Linked DNA regions of Homo sapiens. The protein of the gene in region 1 interacts with the protein of each later gene in a biochemical or structural test. Each region holds a gene or a part of one and is shown in the gene's direction. Other genes may lie near its edges.

Region 1 (3,500 bases):
GATAAGCTTGTGCAATAGTTACAGAACTTGCCTTAGAATCTAGCATGCCACCTTCATCAACTCTGTTGAAAGAAAGAACCATGAAGTTAAAGACCAGCTGTCCATGCATTTCTCATCCATCTCTAGAAATGATCTAGCTGGCCCCTCTCCTGGTTAACTTTAGTTGCATTCATGCTATATTCATGTTGGTCACTGTCTGTAGACTTTTTCTTTTTAGTATTGCTGACTTCTTAGAATTGGAAAAATATGAACAGCATGTGGTTTCAAATTAATTCATATGATTTGTTGGATACTACATGAAAAGATATGTAGTATCTTTTAGATTTGGACATTTTAATGCATGTGTTCAGCATCTTTGGATGCCCCTGGTTCTAAAGAGCATTTTCATGGGCTTAAAAATGAAAATTTCTCCCTAGATGCTATATGACTTAAATTACATGTAAGCCATATATCATAAGTTGGATTCATATTTTTAAGACATGGTTTTAATATAACTGTAGTTTTGCCAGTAAAATTATAATTTATGTACATGAAATAGTCATTCTACAAATTTACCTTTCTTCTAAATCTTTGCGTTTTAGTGTTTGATCAATTAGATCTTGTCACATATGAAGAAGTAGTAAAACTGCCAGCATTCAAGAGGAAAACACTAGTCTTATTAGGTAAGTTTGATTGTGTAAGTGAGTTGCTTATTCTCACTTTCAAAACATTTTGTGAACATTATTAAGAGTTGTCAGTTTTAACATTCTTTTTTTCTAAATGACATAGGCGCACATGGTGTTGGGAGAAGACACATAAAAAACACTCTCATCACAAAGCACCCAGACCGGTTTGCGTACCCTATTCCACGTAAGCAATGTCTCAATCTCTTTTCATTATATTTTTCCTATCACTTTTTTAACTCTATAATTTATGTATTTTTTTCTGATTACATAAGGTATAACTGTTCATTGTAGGAAATTTGTAAAATCAAAAAAAGAACAAGGAGGAAAATGAGTTAACAGTAATCCCAACCCCTCTTTCCCTATAATAAGTGCTATAAATATTTTGTTGTATACCCTTCTAGGCTTCTCTGTTGTATACCCTTCTAGGCTTGTCTTAGTACAGATATGTGTATAAAGTGTGTGTGTGTGTGTGTGTGTGTGTGTGTGTGTGTGTGTGTTTTAAATAAAATTAGTTTTATCCATTCTGTTTGTAACAATTTTTCTAACAATATGTCATACACATTACCTAGATGAATTATTCTTCAGAAAAATAAGTTTTCATAGTTGTACAGTTTCTGATATGACAATTTTTTTCCCTTAGTTAATATTTAAATTGTTGATTTCTTACCACTTTTTAAACCCAATCAATATGCTAACAGTTGTTTCTGTAAAGATTTTCAAATCTGTAAGATTTTTAATTCTCCTTATTTTCCGTATCTTATTCTTAACCTCTTGCCCTCTTCATTTTCTCAATTGTAAAATGAAGTAATTCAGGATTGCAGAGAGGATTTGAGATCATGTGTATGAAGCACTTAGCAGATGGTGGATAAGTAGAAGCTATCTACCACTATCATTTCATTATTATCATCATTATTCTAAAGTTTAAAATTTTAGGCCAGGCGCGGTGGCTCATGCCTGTAATTCCAGCACTTTGGGAGGCTGAGGTGGGCGAATCACCTGAGGTCGGGAGTTTGAGACCAGCCTGACCAACATGGAGAAACCCCGTCTCTACTAAAAATACAAAATTAGCTAGGCATAGTGGTGCATGCCTGTAATCCCAGCTACTCAGCAGGCTGAAGCAGGAGAATCAGTTGAATCCGGAGGTGGAGGTTGTGGTGAGCCGAGATCGTGCCATTGCACTCCAGCCTGGGCAACAAGAGTGAAACTCCGTCTCAAAAAAAAATAAATAAAATTTTAACCCCAGAAGCTTTCTAGCAGCTCAGGGTTGGAAGAGCTAAAGGAAAATTATTTTTTAAGAGCAACAGGAGAAAATGTGAAGATTGGCTCCATTCTATAGGGCCTTCACATGCCTTCCTGAAGCAATGTCAATACCACTTACAGTTATCTGTACACCTCAGAGAGCCAGGAGGCTTCATGAGAAAACCTTCATCCCAAAACCTTGTCTGATTTACACAAGAAAAGAAATGTATCCAATAGTGTCTCATTTGGCACTACTGGGGTTTTCTAGTAAAACACTTTGAAGTGTTCTTTTAATTCTCCTTATGTCTAGATCATGAGTACAGCAAGCTTAGCTAACATTTAGCTTCTTCTTAACCACGTAACAACTGAACTTCCATGTTATTAAATGGCCAGTTAACTAGTTTGGTTTTAAAACTTACCTTTGATGATGTCAATCATGACTAGTCTTTGAAATATTTGACCCTGTATGTGTATATAACATATATCTAACTACTGAGATGACTGAAGATAGTACAACATCAATATGTTATGTAAGTTCTTGGCTGGGCGCGGTGGCTCACACCTATAATCCCAGCACTTTGGGAGGCCGAGATGGGTGGATCACATGAGACCAGGAGTTTGAGACCAGCCTGGCCAATGTGGTGAAACCCCATCTCTACTAAAAATACAAAAGTTAGCCGGGCATGGTGGCACACACCTGTAGTCCCAGCTATTAGGGTGGCTGAGGCATGAAAATCGCTTGGAACCCGGGAGCTGGAAGTTGCAGTGAGCTGAGATCTTGCTACTGCACTCCAGCCTGGGCAACAGAGTGAGACCCTGTCTCAATAAATAAATAAATAGTAACGCCGGTTCTTCAGCTTTTGATGTGCCTAGAGAAAGGGCTTCTCTTAAAATGTCCACATTTTGATGACCACGAGCACTTTATGTTCTAACAAACAGGCTAGCAGGAAAGGGGGATTCCCCATTAGTTTAGGCTCATGTATACAGAAGAGAGTAGCATAAATTTGTTCTTTCTCAAAGAAAGAAGGAAGCAAAGAAATTGAGAGAGAGAGGGAAAAAAAGGGAAGGAAGGGAGAAAAGAAAGGGGGGTAGGGAGAGAGAATATTAAAACCAGTGTTCCTGGCTCATCTAGAAAAACATTTCCTAAAGTGTGTTTTGCAGGATACTGGTCCTATTAGTATCCACAGAACTAGAGCTTATTGGCATATACTTCAGTTACACTCACTTAGGTGAGGGGTGGGCAAGCCTTTTCTGTAAAGGACCAGATAGTACACATTTGAGGCTTTAAGGCCATACAGTCTATCACAAGCACTTAGCTCTGCTGTTGTCTCATGAAAACAACCATAGGCAATATGTAAACAAAAGCACATGGCTGTGTTCCAGTAAAACTTTGTTTACAAAAACAGACAGTAGGTGGCCAGGTGCAGTGGCTCACACCTGTAATCCCAGCACTTTGGGAGACTGAGGCGGGCAGATCACCTGAGGTCAGGAGTTTGAGACCAGTCTGGCCAACATGGTGAAACCCCGTCTCTGTTGGAAATACAAAAAATAGCTGGGCATGGTGGTACACGCCTATAATCCCAGCTGCTCAGGAGG
Region 2 (3,500 bases), on another chromosome or scaffold:
ATAACTGCCTCTTTAGCCCCTAGGCTGGACCTGTCTCTTCTGACCACATTTTGTAGGCAATACGAGAGAGAGATCCTTGATTATCAGGTCTGTGAGCCTGTGTAAAGAAGATGGAGAAGCATACTCACATGGCCCTGTCTTTGAGACTTTAAGGAAATCTCCTGGAGAGTCACTGGGAAACCAGTTTCAGCAACATTGACCCAGCTGGTTTTTCTCCTGTCCCCCTTTCCTGATGGCAGGAAAAGAAGGTGTTGTAAATAAAAGCCAGGGTGAAGAGTGATGGGGATGAGGACACTTTGGGAAGATTCCTTCATCATTGGTTTCAAAGTGGAGGGAGATGTCCGTAAAACAGAGAACATGGGGCCTAGCTCCAGGCTCTTATGACGTGGAAAGAGAATTTTATCTTTTATTCTGGCTTCTGGAGTATTAGACATGTCCTTATTCAGGAGGCCACCAGTTTAATTTTTAACACAATGAGGGTTTCCTTGCTCTTCTTCCAAGTGTCTCTGATGCACCTGATTGCTTGATATGAGTTCCCTTTTGGGGAGCGTTTTCAGTAACCCTATGAAATTGAAAATTGAACTCCATTCTGACTGAGTTTACAGTCAGGGATGCAGGGTGGGACATGAAGGAGAAGGGCCTTCAGCCCACCCCATTGGTCCAGTGTGTGCCCCAGGTGGTTGAGGGTGCAGGAGGAGACCCTTGACCAAGGCTTGGGCTGGGTATTTGCCTTGGTCCCAGGACTGAGAAGAGATGGCTTTGGGGACAAAGGAGAAGGAGTGCAACTGGCTTTGGGCAAAGGAATCAGGAGGGCATGGGATCTGGGTACCACCTCTTGACCATGTTGCCTGCCAGGTGCTCTGGCTGGAAAGTGAGTGGACTTGGCCTTGGACCCTTTACTCTGGAGGAGCGATTTGCTATTTTTTCTCTCCAGTTGCCTCCAGCTGGAATCCTGGTGATTAATGGGTTAGAGAGTGTTTCAAAAACACCCAGAGGGAGCCCAGTCCCCGTGGCTTACAGGGAAACAGAAAAACACATTATTCTGTCCTTTTCCTTCAAATGAAAGAAGAAGCCTCCCTGCTTGCTCAGTGAGTTGGCAAATGGCTCTGGAGAGTGGAAAGTTGTGAAGGCACAGTCCACTTCTCCACACCCCCTCCTTCTTGGATTAACCCTTCATGGGGCCCCCATTCCTGGTGCCAAGGTGAAAACACTGCATCTGCCCTCACATTGGTCTTCATTTCCTTCCAGCAGCGCACTCGAAGTGGCAGCGATTTGCAGGCTGCTGCCCCTGCAGTGTATCTGCTTGGAATACTTGCCAGGTAGTTCTCAATTAATGGGCCCAACACTGCATCTTGGTGAAGAGAAATGGGGAGATGCTGATATTTCTAGGCCCTCCCAGATCACCCTGCCCTGAGCGTACTAGTAGGTGTAACACAGATTCTCCCAGGCAGGATTTCCTACCCTTAACTAATTCAGCTGGACTGTGTTCTAAAATATTTACTCCTAATGTGCAAAATAGTGACAGATTTGATCAGATTAATTGTATTTCACTCACTGGATCATCTAATTGTGGCTCCCAAACAGATTTTTCAAATAGCTTTTGGCTGGATTGCTTGTCTTCATCCTCCCTGCTCACAGTTCCTGTGTCACAATATCTTAATGCATTCTGCCTTTTTGGAGGCTTAATAAAGAAGCTTGCCACAGAAGCCATTCTTCAGGGTTTTGCCAAAAAAATTGTTTTCAATTAGTATTACAAGGGGAAACCATCTCAGTTGAGATGTAGCTGGGAAATGCATGGGGACATAACGGTACTAATTGCTCCTGGTCATTGTTGGTCTGAGGGGCCGTAGGGAGAGGAGGAGCTGGGCACAGCCTATTTATCTGCTCAGTGATTTCTCTGATGGCTGGATTACAGGATGTGATTTCCTTCTCAGATCCTTCAGTGATTTCCAAGGTGAGCAGAAGTTGCAGATTCCTTAATTGGGAGGCCTGATTTAATGATTACAGAAATGCAGTGGCTGGAACTTGCTTTGTAGCTGGCAAAGAAGGAATGCCCGGGAGTGGCTTCTCCAGTGGTGTTGGATTTAAGGGAAAGGGAGGGTGACTTCAGTGGCAGGAAGGCTCAGTGGACAGAAGGGAAAATTGCTTTTTCTTTGGGCTGTGTAAATCTATTGTCAGTGAAGGAATCCTGGAACTGGATGATCTGTGGGCCCTGAATCATCTCATAAGGAGCAGAGAGGTGCAACAAAGCAGACACTCTGTGATAGAAAGATTTGGCTGGAGACTAGTGGTTTATCCAAGGCTAGGTATAGATTGGCTAAGTCACTTAAGGCCTGTGGCTTGACCTACCTGTTGATTTCCCGCTTTCTGCCTTCTTTTGGCCTCTTGGCTGGTTTGAGACACTTCCCTTACAGGGAGAAAATGTCAAAGGAGGATTCTGCAGTAAGTTTGAAGGAGAAAAGAGGCCTTGTGGAGGAGGAGGTGGGAGATATAGAATGTGAGTGCCTAGTGGGTCACTAGGCAGTTCTGGTAAGCAGAACTGGCTCTGTGGGATGGATCGAATTTGGCTAACCAAGTTTATTCTCCTGGTGTTGTGGGTAACTGAGAAAAGGCTCTGGATAGGGCTCTGACTTTGTTGGTAGTCAGTGGAGATGAGGGAGCTTTGCCTTACACATGGTTGGCACTTGATAATGTTTGACTGAGTGAATGAAAGACAGTCTCAAGTCTCATCAAGCAGAGGCTATAAAGGAATTAGAAATTGTTGTTGCCTGGGATAGCAATGATTTCAGAACTTGACAGCTACCATAGCCAGGAGTGTTTCATCCAGTGTGTCTACATTCTGGCTTGAGGAACTTCGGTTTCTTAAATTCAGATCCAGAGTCCATTAGCCTGGCATTCAAGGCTATGTATGTCCCGGGTCTACTTCTCCAACTTTGGATTTGACTCTTCCCTGATTGACTCCTGCATTCTGGCCAGGGCAGCGTCTTCATTGTCCCAAGCATCTTGAGGTCTGTTCCACTTGGGGTACCCTTCTTTCTTGATGAAAGGGCACCTGTTATTCATAGCTCAGTTCAACATTCAGACTCAGTGGCTCTGTGAAACTTTCCTTAGAAGCATTTATTTCTCTTTTCCCCTACTTGTTTATAGAATTTGCAGAGTGCACCACACATTTTGTCATATTTAGTTTAGTACTTACTTTAGTCTTATATTATTTGGTGAGTGATTTGAGGGTAAGAGCTGAAATAATTAAAACAGCACCCCTTCCCTCCAATCACCATCAAGTGCGAGTTCTGTTCTTCTCATCCGTGCCTGGCAGCATGTGCCGTAGGGTAGTACATAGCTCAGTAATACTGAACTCACCTGGGGAGTTGGACTGTGCCTTAGCTGCAGGGTAAGAGGAGAGGAAAGAAGATCATTTTGCCCTAAGATAACTAACAGGTTAACACTGTCTCTTAATAACACTGAGTTTAGACAACTGGTGTATTATTTCATGTATGAAT
Region 3 (3,064 bases), on another chromosome or scaffold:
TGTCCTGTGAGTCTCGTTAAAGGCCCCTGAGGTTGCAGAGGCCCCATCAGCTGCTCCTGAGCCACACCGAAGTCTGTACCAGGGGCTGAGGTGCCCTCTCCCCAACGAGGGGAGCGTTGGGGCAGGGAAAGGGGAAGCTAGAAGCAGCTAGAGAGCGGTGCCTGTGCTGGATCCCTGGGCCCCTGGAGGGTTCCTCACCGGGCTGCCGGGTTATGTTTGCGGTGTTTGCACAGCTGAAGACGCAGCTGGAGTGGACAGAAGCCATCCTGGAGGATGAGCAGACACAGCGGCAGAAGCTCACGGCCGAGTTTGAGGAGGTCAGGCCCTGCCTGGTGGCTCTCAGCCCCCATCAGCCCCTGGGCCCTGAGTCTCCAGGGAATGAGTGGGTCAGCCCTGCCCCGCTCGGCTGTGCCCAGCAGCACCTGGGCTGGGCCTGGGCCTTCTGGGCAGCAGTGGGTGGGGCCCGGGCAGGTGGAGCACAGGCTGGAGGCACCTTGGGAGCCCTGTGGGTGGTCTGCATCCCTGAGGAGCCTTGAGGGCCTGGGGCTGGGTCAGAACTTGTGGGTCTGGCCCACTCATTCCAGCTACAGGATGGAGCTGTTGCTCCATCAGGCTGGGGGGGCCCCCTGGTCCCCAGGCGTGCTCGGTAGGGTCTTGACAGCACAGCCGTTTATAAGACGTCTCACCCAGACCTCACTTCCCTCTCCGGCAAGGCTCAGACCTCGGCATGTCGGTTACAAGAAGAATTGGAGAAGCTCCGCACAGCCGGCCCCCTAGAGTCTTCAGAAACAGAGGAGGCCTCACAGCTGAAGGCAGGCAGGGGCTGGGGCGGGGGTCACACCTGGAGGGTCTGCTCTGGGGCTGGCGCCACTCTTGGCCTCGGAAAGGGGCCAGGAAGGGGAGAGCCGACCCCACCGGGACCTGCCCTTGGCACTGGTTCCCCTTGTCACTACCCGGGGCTGGGGTGGGGACTCCTAGCCCTGCAGTGTCACATGGTCACATGGCAGCCATTAGTCCTGGTGGCTGTCGAAATGTGAAGCATGTAGAACGTGAAGTGCGTTCCTCAGCCACACGTCCAGCGCTCAGTAGTCAGGTGTGTCTCCTGTGCTGCCTTGGACAGTGCGGAGTAAACTGCTCCTGCCCCAGGAAGTTCTGGTGGTGCTGAGAGCACAGGACCCAGCCCTCACGGTCAGCATGGGCGGTTTCCTCCCTGTCGTCACCACCTATCTCCGGGTGACCAGGAGTTGCCTTCCTTGTGTCCCCAGAGGGCTCCAGCCCCTGGCGTCAGGGTCCTGTGGGCATAGCTGGGGTGGCCCTCCTGCCGGTGCAAGGGCTGATGCCCGTCAACCTTCTGACCATCAGGAGAGACTAGAAAAAGAGAAGAAGTTAACAAGTGACCTGGGGCGCGCCGCCACGAGACTGCAGGAGCTTCTGAAGACGACCCAGGAGCAGCTGGCAAGGGAGAAGGACACGGTGAAGAAGCTGCAGGAACAGCTGGAAAAGGCAGTGCGTGCCTGGCGCCAAAGCAGGGCGGGAGGAGTCGAGCTGCCGGGAGCCCCGGGGAGGCAGGACCGGGAGAGGCAGAGCTGGGCGGAGTCGTCAAGCTGCTGGGAGCGCTGGGCTGGGAGCCCCAGGGGAGGCAGAGCTGGGCGGAGGTAGTGGGGACAGAGACTTCCTAACGAGGGCTTCAGCCCACCCGGCCCACCACCCACCCTTCTGGGGTTCCCTTGCTGGGAAGCGAGTGTCTGATCCCCCTGCTGGCCCAGGTCCTCACTTTGCACCTGTGTGGGCCCCTTAGCCAGTGCTCCAGCCCCTGCCCTGCAGGATGATGGTTTCCCCTCAGCTCCCACCAAGTCCTCCCTGTCCCCCAGCCCCAGGGGTCTGTGGCTCCTGTTCTCTGAGGGACTGGAGTGGCTTGAGGGGGTCAATCCAGGGAGGGACTAAAGGCCCAGGGTAGAGGGCAGGTGGTTCTGCCATGGCTCGTGGCCCAGCCCCCCTCACGCCACCTGCCTTCGTTCACAGGAGGACGGCAGCAGCTCAAAGGAGGGCACCTCTGTCTGAGTTTCCTCTTTGGAAAAAGAAGTTACTGTTCAACTTACCAAAATGCCTTACACATTCCTTACAAATAAACCAACCAACCTACACAGCGTTATCCAGGCCCAACTTCCGGTAGCTCCGAGAGAAGCCATGAGAGACAAGTCTCTTAGAGCCACAGAAGTAGACCTTCCAGAGCCCCAGTTTGTAAATGAACCTGTGTCACATTTGATAAACACTATCCTGGGCGCAGCCCCGGGCCACCGCCGAGTGACGCCAAAGCCCTGGTTGACTCTGACAGCCCCGTGGGTGTGTGGGAGGCCGGGCGCTCTGGGGTCTGTCTGTCAGTGCAATCGTTTAGTGTTTTTTCAGTGGGGCGGGGCGGGAAGCGGGTGGGACCGGGCAGCCAGTTCTCAAAGGCTGTGGGGCCGACTGGAGGCCACAGCCCCTCACCCCTAGACGTTGCCAACCAGAACTGACGTGTGACCTCCTGGGTGTTGATGCCATTAAAACCAACGTTGGTGCCCGGTGCTGCGGTCTCGTCTGGTCTTCTGCTGGGGCTCCCCCACCCGCTGTTGGGCCCAAGATGAAGAACCAAGGGGTGGGGGCGCACTCGGGAAGAGAGTAAGCGTGGGCCTCAGCTGCTTTGAAGGCAGAGGCTCTGCAGCTCCGCGTAGCGTGGGGTGGGGCTGAGACTCGCTGCTTCCGGGGCCCCCAGCAGTTTTCCTTGTCACCTCCCAGACCTCAGTGCCCTCCGGGCAGGATAAGGGAGCAGGGCCTGCGACACCTGAGAGCCAGATACATTTACTGCTGCCCCGCATCCCGGAGGGGCTGAGGTTTGTGAGCGCGGCTGGTGGCCCGGGCTGTTGCGTGATGGAGGTCCGGGAATGAACAAGGGGTCTCTGTCCTGGCTGGGGCTTAGACACCCACACCCCAGGAGGGTGGGCCAGGGCTGGAGCAGCCCACTGCCTGCCCTCGGGAGGTGGAGTTTCACCTGCAGAAACCAGCTTAGGTTTGCCACGACCCTCAG
Region 4 (3,500 bases), on another chromosome or scaffold:
CTACTTTTAGAAGAAAAGACTAACTGTTATTTTCGTTGATGTTTTCTCCCTATTCTTAAAGCCGCTGTCTGACAGAAGTTTCTCTTGACACTGATACAGTGATATTTGACTAAGTGTGATTTGAAATTTCTTCTGGCTATGAGTGATAATAGCTGTGGGTGCAGAGGGCAGCTGATTTAAACATTATGTTTTAATAGAATAAGACAAGTCCTTCTCTAGGAATCCATCAAAAAATGAAGTGAAGCATACCTTTTAGATACTACTGTACCATGAATGTTGTGGAGTAGGAAAAATCAGGATCTTCTGTATTCGTTTTTGAAGCAGTGTCTTTGAAAGTAGCTTTTGGCCGGGTGCGGTGGCTCACGCCTATAATCCCAGCACTTTGGGAGGCCGAGGCAGGTGGATCATGAGGTCAGGAGATCGAGACCATCATATCCTGGCTAACACGGTGAAACCCCGTCTCTACTAAAAATGCAAAAAAATTAGCCGGGCGTGGTGGCGGGCCCCTGTAGTCACAGCCACTTGGGAGGCTGAGGCCAGAGAATGGCGTGAACCCAGGAGGCGGAGCTTGCAGTGAGCTGAGATCCACCACTGCCCTCCAGCCTGGGCGAAAGAGCAAGACTCTGTCTCAAAAAAAAAAAAAAAAAGAAAGTAGCTTTCATTCACTTTAGCTTTTCATCTTGTTTCTAAAGGTGGGGCAGATAAAGTGAGTAGGAACTGAGGTAGGAAGTCTTGGTGCTAGAGAAGCCCAAAGGGAAACATTCTGTGTGTTTGGGAATGCCCTCTTGTAGTACCCCTCCTATTTGTAAGCCTGAAATCATTAAATATTAAGAGGTTGTAAGGTTTACTGGGTCTTCATGTGTAGGCTAGTTAGAATTTTTTCATCTATAGTGAATATAGCTTTCCTGATGCAAAAGTCCCAAAGTAGGAGAAGATTTGTTACATATTTCATGTTTGTGTTTGATGTTTGCCTGACTGACTTTTTGTTTCTTATTTAGAAATGACTGCTGTCCATGCAGGCAACATAAACTTCAAGTGGGATCCTAAAAGTCTAGAGATCAGGACTCTGGCAGTTGAGAGACTGTTGGAGCCTCTTGTTACACAGGTAAGAATCTGAAAACACAAATACATTGTAACATGGTTCTATAGCACAGGCCTGGGTAACAACCATAAGAGCAAGGTTATTTAGTTCAAAGCCTTAATTCCAGTACTTGAGTTTAGGTGACAGTTCTTAGATGATTTGAATATTGATGCATGGGTTTAGTTAACCCTTGAGAACGCTGCTGCTGTCGTTTTCTTCAGTCTTATTGCTAGTAACGGGTCCATGGTATGTAGTGCAACTTTGCAAATGTTTGTGCTTTGCAGATACTTCACCTTTCTTCAGAGGGGAAACCCAAGAAAGGTGGAGTCTGGATCCTTGATTGTTAAGGTCTCTCACTCTGCTTAACACACCTTTCATTGTGTGGGATTAATTAGCAGGTAATTCAACTTGAGGGTTTAGGTTTGGTATGCTACAAATGTCACAATGTTAGGGTAGTTCATAAACTGTTAGCAACTAGCTGTGTACTTTTAGTGTTTTACAATAGTATGTCTATTGTTTGTATGTGAGAGATTCAGAGAGAGAGAGAGAAAATGAGTCTTGTTTGGCAAATTTACACTATAACATATATTCATCATCTTTAACCTAGAGATAATCTGGTATTATGTGTATTAATGATGGTAATGTTCTAAGACATAAAGCGTCATCACTGTAGGCTTCTTTGGGCAATCATTCGTTTATTGGGACCTTTACTAATTGCTGAGATTTGTGTGAATAAACTGTCAAAAGACTTCAGAAGCAAATTATCTTAAAATGTTTTGCAAAGTTTGAAAACAGTGGCAGTGTGATCTCCAGATAAAGCTAAGTTCATTGTTAACCTCTTTCTGGAACATCTTGGTGACATATAGTAGAGACATCTAACTTGTCTCTAATCATTTTTTAATTTGTAAAATCAAACTAAAAACCTAATGATCATATTTGAGAAATTAAAATATGTGTTAAATAATTCTCTGTACACATTAAGAAAGCTGAATTATTTTGGAAATTAAATATAGCATCATTGCTGTATATCTTAAATATGGGGAATTGTATGTTAATGTTCAGTGGAATCTCATGTGATTTTTTAAAAGAATAACTTAATCTTGCTGTCTTTAAAGATATTAGTTTGTCATTTTAATTGACTCCAGTTTAATGTTAAAAATGAAACTTTTAGGTTACAACCCTTGTAAACACCAATAGTAAAGGGCCCTCTAATAAGAAGAGAGGTCGTTCTAAGAAGGCCCATGTTTTGGCTGCATCTGTTGAACAAGCAACTGAGAATTTCTTGGAGAAGGGGGATAAAATTGCGAAGGAGAGCCAGTTTCTCAAGGAGGAGCTTGTGGCTGCTGTAGAAGATGTTCGAAAACAAGGTAGGTCATTACTGCTTTTTAGGTAAAGAGAGGCAGGCCTTTCTAGAAAATCAGTGTTTGAAGATTTTTTTTGTGGTCAGTATTCTCATTCTTATGCTTGCCAATTGCTCAGTAACTTACTTAGTTATTGGAGATGTATTAAGTTGGACTGGCTCATATTTTAATTCTCATTCTTATGCTTGCCAGTTGCTCAGTAACTTAGTTATTGGAGATGTATTAAGTTGGACTGGCTCATTTTAATCATGAGAGATGCTTGCAGAGGGACATCTGGAGAATCTGAATCCACTTCTCTTGGGTATTTCAAGTAATAGTTAAGTCTTAGAAATGTTGTAACACAAATTGATAGGAAAGAAATGGGACCGAAGTTTACTTTTCATCCTGTGTAATACTTCTTTTTAGTTCATGCTGAAGAGATGGGTGTGATAAAATGGAAAAATATCTACCTACTCTGAAAATACTCTAGAAATTGTCCTATTGTGTCAGAATAGTATGTTAAATCAGCCATGCATATTTGAACTGGTTGGAGCTTGACATAAATCTGGGTATAAAGGAATCATGTTTTGGGAAATTCAGAATTGATAAAAAGTAAAATGGTAATCCACAGTTTACTAATAATTAATGCTAGAAAAATTGTCCTTATTATGTTACAAATGTGGAAGGAAGACTTTAAATACGGAAGATAAACTTCTTGAAACCTGCAGTTTTTATTTTTAGTAGAGATGGGGTTTCACTAGTTGCCCAGGCTGGTCTCAAACTCCCAAGCTCAAACAATCCGCCTGCCTCGGCCTGCCAGAGTGCTGGGATTGCAGGCATGAGCCACAGTGCCCGGCCTTGAAACCTGTAGTTGTGTGTTAGGTTTCTTTTCCAGTCGGAGAATTTCAACAATGATGTAGGTTTTTTAGGTTATTGGATATCAGCTAAGGTAAATCGAGCCCTGCTATTTACAGGTGCTTTACTAACCCTTGGGAGAACTTCATAGATCTTTCGTGCCTGATGGTAGATTGCATAGTCCAGAGTCTTATGTCAAATTCATCCCTGTGGCAGTACCCATA
Region 5 (3,500 bases), on another chromosome or scaffold:
GGTGATAAAGGCGAGAAAGTGGTGGTACCAGCGTTGGCAGAAGGAAGAGAGAAAAGAAGTGGTAGTTCAAGGAAAGTTTTAGAAGATGGGGAAACTTGAATATATATATAATACGTATTTTATATATATATATAATACGTATTATATATATATAATACGTATTTTATATATATATATAATACGTATTATATATATATAATACGTATTATATATATATAATATGTATTTTATATATATATATATATAAGCAGTAGAGAAGCATGCTAGAAATAAGCAATAGAGAAGATTTTAAAGATGCAAAATAGGGTTATTTGATAACAAGAACGGGGGTAGGGGGCGTTGAAAGAAGACAGAGAGGGTGATAGGACCCAAGATTAATTTTGGAAATAATACTTTCTTTTCAGGTAAGAAGCAGATGTGAATTAGTACAGCAGGAAGAAGGGGAAGGTCACGTATTATTGGCATCTCTCTAATCTGTGGAATAGAAGGCAGAATTATAGTTTTATAGGGTAATTAGTTTTCAGCAGTACTAACATCATGTTAAAGGATTTTAGTAACTAGGTACAAGGAAGAAACAATATATGGACAAATGTATCAGAGATATTGCCTTTATCCACCCAGTGCAAGATTTGGGGCCATGTCTCAGGAAGGAGCAAACGCAAAATTAAGATTCTGACTTACCCAGAATGGAAATTTATTTTCAGAGAGATCAAGGAGCTCAGAGATGAGCACAGAGTTTTTCTTTGTAGGACCAGTCACTGCTCTGTTTCAATCAGTTTTTATTGCACCATCATTTCCCTTGCTGTCCCCACCTCTCTTTGGAAAAGGGGTCAGGTAGGGCCTCTGCACTCTGTGAAGCTGCTGGGATCCAGATACCTTCCTTACCTTAATCTCAGTGGACTGGCGATGAGATACACAGCAGTGGGCAGTCCTGGGACATGCAGGTTGAGCTGAACATTAGTCAGTAATTAATATGTCATTACATTTCTTGTGTGAACTAAGGCACTTTTCAGTTCACCGGCTGAATCTAAAAGAAGCCAGTTCCTGCTACAAAAAAAAAAAAAAGTAAGAGTAAGTAAGCTGAAATCCTACCAGCAGGCTCAGAGTGTTACTTTGCCTGTCCACAAGGTGGCAGAAGCCGATCAGCTTTCCTCTACTCAGAAACTTACTAGACCTTGTGCTTTAAAACAAGAAATCTAAAAAACAAAATAAAAACACATTACTGCTAATAAATCAGCCTCCCAACTTAACTCTCAGCTTATTATTGGAATAAAGATAATAATTAATCTTCAGGGAATGACTTTTGAAGTACTGAGACATTATGAGAGATACATGTTAAGAAATGGAATGATGAGTGGTTTTTCCTGTGATTCCTCCTTCTAGATTTTACCTGATTGGTGGTGGTATCCCCATCATTGTTTGCGGCATAACTGCAGCAGCGAACATTAAGAATTACGGCAGTCGGCCAAACGCACCCTAGTGAGTATTTTATATTCTCTGTGTACTTGACCCAGTTGTTTCTCTTTTAAGTATTTTCTAGGCATTACAGGTGATTGCAATTTCGTAGATAATTTGTTGAAACATGTAGCATCGATCTGGTTTACCATTTTCTTTTCCAGTTGCTGGATGGCATGGGAACCCTCCTTGGGAGCCTTCTATGGGCCAGCCAGCTTCATCACTTTTGTAAACTGCATGTACTTTCTGAGCATATTTATTCAGTTGAAAAGACACCCTGAGCGCAAATATGAGCTTAAGGAGCCCACGGAGGAGCAACAGAGATTGGCAGCCAATGAAAATGGCGAAATAAATCATCAGGATTCAATGTCTTTGTCTCTGATTTCTACATCAGCCTTGGAAAATGAGCACACTTTTCATTCTCAGCTCTTGGGGGCCAGCCTTACTTTGCTCTTATATGTTGCACTGTGGATGTTTGGGGCTTTGGCTGTTTCTTTGTATTACCCTTTGGACTTGGTTTTTAGCTTCGTTTTTGGAGCCACAAGTTTAAGCTTCAGTGCGTTCTTCGTGGTCCACCATTGTGTTAATAGGGAGGATGTTAGACTTGCGTGGATCATGACTTGCTGCCCAGGACGGAGCTCGTATTCAGTGCAAGTCAACGTCCAGCCCCCCAACTCTAATGGGACGAATGGAGAGGCACCCAAATGCCCCAATAGCAGTGCGGAGTCTTCATGCACAAACAAAAGTGCTTCAAGCTTCAAAAATTCCTCCCAGGGCTGCAAATTAACAAACTTGCAGGCGGCTGCAGCTCAGTGCCATGCCAATTCTTTACCTTTGAACTCCACCCCTCAGCTTGATAATAGTCTGACAGAACATTCAATGGACAATGATATTAAAATGCACGTGGCGCCTTTAGAAGTTCAGTTTCGAACAAATGTGCACTCAAGCCGCCACCATAAAAACAGAAGTAAAGGACACCGGGCAAGCCGACTCACAGTCCTGAGAGAATATGCCTACGATGTCCCAACGAGCGTGGAAGGAAGCGTGCAGAACGGCTTACCTAAAAGCCGGCTGGGCAATAACGAAGGACACTCGAGGAGCCGAAGAGCTTATTTAGCCTACAGAGAGAGACAGTACAACCCACCCCAGCAAGACAGCAGCGATGCTTGTAGCACACTTCCCAAAAGTAGCAGAAATTTTGAAAAGCCAGTTTCAACCACTAGTAAAAAAGATGCGTTAAGGAAGCCAGCTGTGGTTGAACTTGAAAATCAGCAAAAATCTTATGGCCTCAACTTGGCCATTCAGAATGGACCAATTAAAAGCAATGGGCAGGAGGGACCCTTGCTCGGTACCGATAGCACTGGCAATGTTAGGACTGGATTATGGAAACACGAAACTACTGTGTAACATTGCTGGGCTTCCTAGGCAGAAATTCATATAAACTGTGATACTCACATTCCTTGAAGCTATGAGCATTTAAAAACTGTTTACAGCCACCATAGGGATTCAAAAGAATTTGGAATAAACTTTGAAGTTTTGGATTTTACTTATTTTTATCCCCAAATTGTTGCTATTTTTTAGGATCTGAAACAAAATCTTTCTAAAACATTGTTTTAGTTGTCAAAGCACCAACAGGACATTTTGGGATGTGAAATGTAATTTCTTGGAATCTGTAATTTGTACTTAATATTTCAGGCTTGTATTTAATATAATAAATAGGTGTTTGTTATTGTGTCGATCTGTTATTTTTATATTTTACAATATAAGCATTTAGTTCTATTTTAATGAAATTAGTGGTTTGGGGTATTTTAATTAGAGTTACACATAAGTCAGTTATATATATATATTGCATGGTTAAGTGTATTGATTTTGGCACATAAATCAAAGTGATTTTTGGGTTGCTGTATTTTATAAGTCTAGTTTTAAATATTACCAGGTTTTAAAAGGATCTCTCAGGATGTTTTTTGAAAATGGAAATGCCTAAAAAACTTCCTACGTTGCCTTACTTTTGCGTTATTCCTTGGATCCTATTAATACTATTTTCA
Region 6 (3,492 bases), on another chromosome or scaffold:
TTTACTTTCCTCTGTGGCATTTATACCCTGACATCTTCTACATATTATGTTTTTTCCAACCTACTAAACTGAAGTTAACTTTTGTTACACCCTGCTATATTCCAGACCTAGAAAGAACATTGCCTTGTCCTTTGGAGGTGTTCAATAATGAATGGAAATTAAGTTATTGAGATCAAATACATATCCCAAAAGTATATTTTTGTTTGTTTGTTTTTTGTTTTTAGTATAGACGGGGTTTCACCATGTTGGCCAGGCTAGTCTCGAAATCCTGACCTCAGGTGATCCACCCGTCTCAGCCTCCCAAAGTGCTGGGATTACAGGCGTGAGCCACACTGCACCCGGCCAAAAGTATAATTTAATAGTGTCAGCCTAGTTCACACCTGTAATCCCAACACTTCGGGAGGCCGGGGGGCAGGCGGCAGGGGGGATCCCTGAGGTCAGGAGTTCGAGACCAGCCTGACCAATGTGGTGAAACCCCGTCTCTACTGAAAATACAAAAATTAGCTGGGCGTGGTGGCATGTGCCTCTAATCCCAGCTATTTGGGAGGCTGAGGCATAAGAATTACTTAAACCCAGGAGGCAGAGGTTGCAGTGAGCCGAGATGGCACCACTGCACTCCAGACGGGACAACAGAGCAAGACTCCATCTCAAAAAAAAAAAATACATAAAAAATAGTGTCAAGTGAGAGAATATTTATCTCCATCTGAATTCATTGTAATGTTTTATGTCTGATTTTTAGAGTGAAGATGAAGCTGGATGTAGCTCAGTTGATGAAGAAAGTTACAAGACTCTGAAGCAGCAGGAAGAAGTATTTCGAAATTTAGATGCTCAGTATGAAATGGCAAGATCACAAACCCACACACAAAGAGGAATGGGTTTGGGTTTCACATCTTCAATGCGAGGAATGGATGCAGTTTGAAAATGATCACACTTGTAAAGTTTGGGACTTATAGACTTCTTGTTCTGATGTCACGTCCTTGTTCACCAAACAGCTAGCACTCTAGCTTGCATGGGTGTTGCATTGACTTTAATTTATTGAAAAATACAAATTTTTGTAAATATCAGATCAGTGATACTGGTGTTAGTGTTGTAATCAGGTTAAACCCACTTCCATTAAACTTGACAGGACTATAGAAGGATAATATTTTTTAGTTCATGAATTCTACTTTTCAAATATATAAAAGCTGCAGGTGGGGATAAAATCTCATACATGGATTTTTTCGTGTCCGCTGTCTTGTGTACTTTTGTACTTAACCTTGTACAGTTATTTTCATCTCTTGAAACATGAAAGAAATGTTATGTAGATGTTCTTTAGAAGATCTGGCCATTTGGTACATAATCCAGCACAGATAAGCTGGGTGGTAATGATAATAAAAATGGTTTTCTCAAAACTGGTGTTAATTTAAGTTACCTGGGATGTTTCTTTGAATTTGTTTTATAGTTTCTGTAGCATTTGGCAATTGCTGTTAGAAAACACTAGCTAGAAATCCCCTCCCCACCACCCTTTTTAAGGCCAGTTAACTATACTACAGTCAATACCGTGGTGAGCAAAAATGTAAAAGGTGGAAGGAGAAAACTTACTAAAATAGTATGTTTTCCTATTATAAGGGACAGACTTGGTATTCAGTATTTGTCAAATATTACATGTGTTATTCAGGAGATAGATTAATGCATTAAAGGGATGTAAGCACTTTTATTTTAATAAAGTGCCTTATAACAAGTTCTTTGCATGCTTTTTGCTCATTATCCCTTTGAAGTCTTCTCCAGCATAGACTATAAAATATTAAAATATTAGAAATTTTTTTTGTTTGTTTTTTTGAGACAGGATCTTGCTCTGTTGCCTAAACTGGGTGCAGTGGCACAATCTCGGCTCACTGCCAGAGCCTCTGCCCCCCAGGTTCAAGCAATTCTCCCACCTCCACCTCCCATGTAACTGGGATTACAGGCGTACCACCGCACCCAGCTAATTTTTGTATTTTTAGTAGAGGTGGGGTTTTACCATGTTGGCCAGGCTGGTCCTGAACTCCTGACCTCAGGTGATCCACCCTCCTCAGCCTCCCAAAGTGCCGGGATTATAGGCGTGAGCCACTGCAGCCAGCCTAGAAAATGTTTTGTTACTAGATTGAACATAAATCTGGAGCCAAGGGGTGGGGGGGGCCTGCAAAACTTGAAGTTAATTTACTTCAGTTACAGCAAAGTAATAAGGTTTGGCTTTCCTTTGAAAAATCCTTTGGAAAACATCACAGAATGAGAGCACATTACAATCAGGGAAGACTACAGGAATAAGATTGACAGCCTTATTTTAAAAGCTGGAATTAAGTCTTGCCAACTTGCTCATTAGGTATTTTTTTTATACATGAAAATGAAGTAATGGGGTGTTTTCTTTTTTTTTGCTTTCTGTCCTAGGCTGGAGTGCAGTGCATTGCAGCAGGCTCCCCCAGGCTCAAGCAGTCCTCCCACCTCAGCCTCTTGAGTACCTGGGACCACAGGTGCTCACCAACACACCTAGCTTGTTTTTAATTTTTTATAAAGACAAGGTCTTGTTACGTTGCCCAGGTTGGTCTTGAATTCCTGGCCTCAAGCAATCCTCCCACCTCAGGGCTCCCAAAGTGATGGGGTTACAGGTGTGATCCACTTCACCTAGCCAGATTGTAAGATTTTTAATGTACTTTAATAAACCTTTCATTTTCCCAGAGCACAGAAATTCTATGGCAAAATGGCTTTTCACCGTGTTTCAGTGACAAATCTAAGCCTTCTAAGGAAATGACACTATGGATCCTTCATTTCGTGATCATCAACATTTTTCAATTAAGCTCTGCCTTTTTAAATCAATCTTATTAAAAATGTTCATGACCTTCTAAGGCAGTGTGGACGCAAAAGCTTCCTGTGTGTCTACAGTTATTTTAGGAGCTGACCATACATGATGAGTGATACAGCCTGTACTTTGCTCATCTAGAGCAGCACTGTCCAATAAAATATGTGTGTATATGTATATTGGTCCAAGTGATCTTCCCACCTCACTCCCCTGAGTAGCTGGCACCAAAGGCCCATGACAATGTACCTGAGATGGGGTTCTCAGGCTGTTGGCCAGGCTGGTCTCCCACTCTTGGCCTCAAATGATCTGCATCATCTCAGCCTCCCAAAGTGCTACCTGGGATTCAGGTGTGAAGCCACAGTGCCTGGCCTAAGTATTTTATTTCAATTTCTTTTTTGAGTAGCCAAATGCAAATAATTAAAAGATGAAATTACAGTTGTCCCTTGAACACATGGGTTTGAACTTTAGGGTCCACTTACATGCAGAATTTTTTTTTCTTTTTTTCTTTTTTTTTTTTTTGTGAGAGACTCTTTTGCCCAGGCTGGAGTGCAGTTGCATGATCCTAGCTCACTGCAACCTTTGTCTCCTGGGTTCAAGCAATTTTCCTGCCTCAGCCTCCTGAGTAATTGGAATTACAGGCACCCGCCACCACGCCCGGCTAATTTTTGTATTTTTCG
Region 7 (3,500 bases), on another chromosome or scaffold:
ACAGAGTGAGACTATCTCAACAACAACAAGAAAAGAAGGTGGCCATCATCTGCAAGCCAAGGAGAGAGAAGAAACCAAACCTGCTGACACATTGATCTTGGACTTCTAGTCTCTAGAATTGTGAGAAAAGAGATTTCTGTTGTTTACCACCCATTCTGTGGTATTTTGTTGTGGAAACCCTAGTAAACATACTATATTAAAATTCTTCCTTATGTCCATATGAAATACTCCCAACTTTAATTTATTCATAATCCACTTTCTTTAGTTTACAGAGTCCTCATAAAACACAATCTATACTTGAATGCAGTGAGTACACTGCACTTTGACCTTTTTTTTTTTTTTTTTTTTTTTTTTTTTTTTGAGATGGAGTCTGGCTCTGTCGCCCAAGCTAGAGTGCAGTGGTGTGATCTTGGCTCACTACAACCTCCAACTCCTGGGTTCAAGTGATTCTCCTGCCTCAGCCTCCCGAGTAGCTGGGACTACAGGCACCCGCCACCACGCCTGGCTAATTTTTGTATTTTTAGTAGAGATGGGGTTTCACCATATTGGCCAGGCTGTTCTCAAACTCCTGACCTTGTTATCCACCCGCCTCGGCCTCCCAAAGTGCTGGAATTACAGGCATGAGCCACCGTGCCCAGCCTCCTGACCTTGTTTTAACTAAGCCTCTCACTCCCTCTGATCCCATCTGTGTTCTGTCTGTTTGGATATCTTGCCACTTTTCTCTGGACATGCTTCAGTTTCTCCACATTCATCTGAAGTTTGGGGATCAAGACAAAATAAAATACTCTAATGAGAATCTGATTGATTTAAAATATATTCACCCTCCAACTGTTATCTGTTACATTTTTTAACTTTTTATTTTCTTATTACTTCATAGTGGCAGTATGTTGTTGACTCAGTCACCATATCAGTAATAGTGACTCTATCTCTCCAATGTCCTTGGACTTAGCAAAATTTACTCGTTCTCCATTTATGCGTGGTCCCATGGCCATGAATGGCCTTGACTGGGTTCCTGTTAAGTCTCCTTATGCTAGTCTCTTTTCAGTCTTGAAAGTCTTAGCCCTGCCTCTGAAGAATTAATGTGGATCCTTTCACAGCTTTCACCTAGGTCATGAGGTTTAAATTGTTGGAGAGGCCCACTGTGATATGATTGTAAGAGTCACCATGCCATTTTTACAACCTTGAGTTATAAGTTTCTTGTAGGTGCTTCACTAGCCTCATGATATGCCTTGCCAGAAGTAGCGCCTGAGATGGAGATTTGGGTGCAGGTGATTTATTGACGATGTGTTCTTCAGGAAAAATCTGTAATGGAGAGAGAGAAGCAGGATTAGGAAGGGAAAAGAGCAAGCAATGATGTGGTCTCAGTTACAGTCTAGGCTTGGTCTAATCCTTGGAGCATTTCATGGGCCGCTGAAGCATAATTGCACTGCAGAGTTGTCTCTTCTTGACGCAGAGATGGGGCAATGAAGGTGGAAGTTACTTCCTGGGCCAAGTGGCTCTCATCAGCCTGGGTAATTCTCCACAGAAGGAGGCATCTCTGTATAGTTAGGAGCTGTCTTAATCGGTTAGGACTGCTATAACAAAATACCATCAACTGAGTGGCTTGTAAACAACACGGATTTACTTCTCACAGTTCTGGAGGCTGAGAAGTTCAAGGTGCTAGCAGATTTTGTATTTGGTAAGGTCCCACTTTCTCATGGATGGCACCTTTTCACTGTGTCCTCACGTGGTGGAAGGGGCAAATGAGCACCATAGGGCCTATTTTATAAGATCACTAAGCCCTCATGACCTAGTCACCTTCCAAAGGTCCGCACTTCCTAATACCATCACCTTGGGGGTTAGGACTTCAACATATGAATTTTGGGGAGACACAGACATTCACATCATTGGAGGAGCCAACATTCACAGTGGCTGAGGGAAGGAGGCATCATATTGGTAAAGGGGAACTGGGTGGGCAGTGGAGCATCACTGACATAGCATTAAGGCTAAAAGCATACTCGTCAATATGCAATTGAAGGCCACATCCCTAGTTAAAAGGATTTTAAACTAAACAGGATGGAATTGCTCACTGAACTGCTGAGCTGGCAGAACTCACTGAGGAGCCACCCCAGAGAACAAGTAAGAAAAGCAGGAGGTGTGTTAAAGAGAAAAGCTAGCTGGGTGTGGTGGCTCGTGCCTGTAGTTCCATCACTTTGGGAGGCTGAGGCAGGAGGATTGCTTGAGACCAGGAGTTCAAGACCAGTCTGGGCAACATGGCAAGACCCCGTGTCTACAAAAAAAATTTTTTAATTAACTGGATGCAATGATGCGCACCTGTACTCTTAGTTACTGGGGAGACTGAGGTGGGAGGATCCCTTGAGTCCAGGATTTCAAGGCTGCAGTGGCTGATAATTGTACCACTGAACTCCAGCCTGAGTGACAGAGCAAGACTCTGTTTCAAAAACAAACAAACAACAACAACAACAACAAAAACAGAAGAGCTCTTCTAACAGAGATACCTGTGCCTTATTTCTCCTCCAAAGAGCCTCTTATAAATCTGTACCCCACCCTCCAGCCTCCAGACTTGAGCCTGATTACAAATTAGTTTTCATTCTTGGGAGATAGTAATTGGGTTCTCTCTATGCAAGTATTTCTGAATAATCAAGTGACCATTTCTTATTGTAATCTTTTTTTTTTTCTTTTTGAGACAGTCTTGTTCTGTCATGCAGTGGTGTGATCTTGGTTCACTGCAACCTCCACGTCCCTGGTTCAAGTGATTCTCGTGCCTCATCCTCCCGAGTAGCTGGTATTACAGGCGTGCACCACCATGCCTGGCTAATTTTTTATACTTTTAGTAGAGATGGGGTTTTGCCATGTTGGCCAAGTTGGTTTTGAACTCCCCTGGCCTCAAGCGATCTGCCTGCCTCAGCCTCCAAAAGTGCTGGGATTACAGGTGTGAGCCACCGTGCCCAGTCTCTACTTGTAATCTCTATTTGTCTTTTCTAAGAATTACTCTAGTTAGCTATTTATTCCAACTTTTTAAATATAATAATAAATGTATAGTTGAACAAATAAAAATCTTGATGTCTTCCTGATGTATACATCTGAGGACAAAATTTTTCTCTAGTCTCATAATTTGACTTCATATAGTTACAGAATTTGAAGACGTATTTAAATCCCATAAGTTACATTGCTTTTCTAATTTTCATTGCCCTTAATTTTGTCCCTACACAATTATATTGCCACTTTATACCCTATAATTGATGCTCTTAATAATTTGACCTATTTATTACTTTCAGAAAATTTCTCATTAGGTTGTTGGGTCTCTGACTTTAACCTATTTGGTACTTTTAATTTTTATGCCTCTATTGTATGCAAGTATATTTTTCATAAATGTTTTCTTTTTGAATGAAACAATGAATAATTTAAATTTCTATCTAAAATCCAAGGACAATATGAATTTTAGAGGTGATGTCATCTGTGTTTAATTTCTGGTAAGGAATGGGGAAAACGGGAAGCCA

What was found.
Region 2: the proteins of CASK (region 1) and SORCS3 interact in a test that uses a peptide from one of them, tested with the Homo sapiens proteins (one large-scale study listed by IntAct).
Region 3: the proteins of CASK (region 1) and RRBP1 interact in a test that uses a peptide from one of them, tested with the Homo sapiens proteins (one large-scale study listed by IntAct).
Region 4: the proteins of CASK (region 1) and CTNNA1 interact in a test that uses a peptide from one of them, tested with the Homo sapiens proteins (one large-scale study listed by IntAct).
Region 5: the proteins of CASK (region 1) and ADGRA3 interact in a test that uses a peptide from one of them, tested with the Homo sapiens proteins (one large-scale study listed by IntAct).
Region 6: the proteins of CASK (region 1) and RSRC2 interact in a test that uses a peptide from one of them, tested with the Homo sapiens proteins (one large-scale study listed by IntAct).
Region 7: the proteins of CASK (region 1) and ZSCAN30 interact in a test that uses a peptide from one of them, tested with the Homo sapiens proteins (one large-scale study listed by IntAct).

The regions. Positions count from the first base shown.
Region 1 is NC_000023.11:41,532,055-41,535,554, reverse strand, and holds part of CASK (peripheral plasma membrane protein CASK), read left to right. Parts: intron 1-581; coding exon 582-662; intron 663-768; coding exon 769-849; intron 850-3,500. UniProt on the Homo sapiens protein: Multidomain scaffolding Mg(2+)-independent protein kinase that catalyzes the phosphotransfer from ATP to proteins such as NRXN1, and plays a role in synaptic transmembrane protein anchoring and ion channel trafficking.
Region 2 is NC_000010.11:104,644,290-104,647,789, forward strand, and holds part of SORCS3 (VPS10 domain-containing receptor SorCS3 precursor), read left to right. Parts: intron 1-3,500. UniProt on the Homo sapiens protein: Plays an important role in modulating synaptic transmission and plasticity in the hippocampus, probably by affecting the trafficking and localization ofAMPA-type glutamate receptors in the postsynaptic density.
Region 3 is NC_000020.11:17,613,179-17,616,242, reverse strand, and holds the end of RRBP1 (ribosome-binding protein 1), read left to right. Parts: intron 1-233; coding exon 234-317; intron 318-713; coding exon 714-812; intron 813-1,362; coding exon 1,363-1,506; intron 1,507-2,022; coding exon 2,023-2,061; 3' UTR 2,062-2,564; downstream 2,565-3,064. UniProt on the Homo sapiens protein: Acts as a ribosome receptor and mediates interaction between the ribosome and the endoplasmic reticulum membrane.
Region 4 is NC_000005.10:138,780,925-138,784,424, forward strand, and holds part of CTNNA1 (catenin alpha-1), read left to right. Parts: intron 1-998; 5' UTR 999-1,000; coding exon 1,001-1,105; intron 1,106-2,252; coding exon 2,253-2,448; intron 2,449-3,500. UniProt on the Homo sapiens protein: Associates with the cytoplasmic domain of a variety of cadherins. The association of catenins to cadherins produces a complex which is linked to the actin filament network, and which seems to be of primary importance for cadherins cell-adhesion properties.
Region 5 is NC_000004.12:22,387,067-22,390,566, reverse strand, and holds the end of ADGRA3 (adhesion G protein-coupled receptor A3 precursor), read left to right. Parts: intron 1-1,383; coding exon 1,384-1,479; intron 1,480-1,619; coding exon 1,620-2,862; 3' UTR 2,863-3,191; downstream 3,192-3,500. UniProt on the Homo sapiens protein: Orphan receptor that may have a role in planar cell polarity pathway.
Region 6 is NC_000012.12:122,502,954-122,506,445, reverse strand, and holds the end of RSRC2 (arginine/serine-rich coiled-coil protein 2), read left to right. Parts: intron 1-739; coding exon 740-919; 3' UTR 920-2,992; downstream 2,993-3,492.
Region 7 is NC_000018.10:35,255,730-35,259,229, reverse strand, and holds part of ZSCAN30 (zinc finger and SCAN domain-containing protein 30), read left to right. Parts: exon of another isoform or gene 1-1,291; coding exon of another isoform or gene 1,292-1,302; intron 1,303-3,500. UniProt on the Homo sapiens protein: May be involved in transcriptional regulation.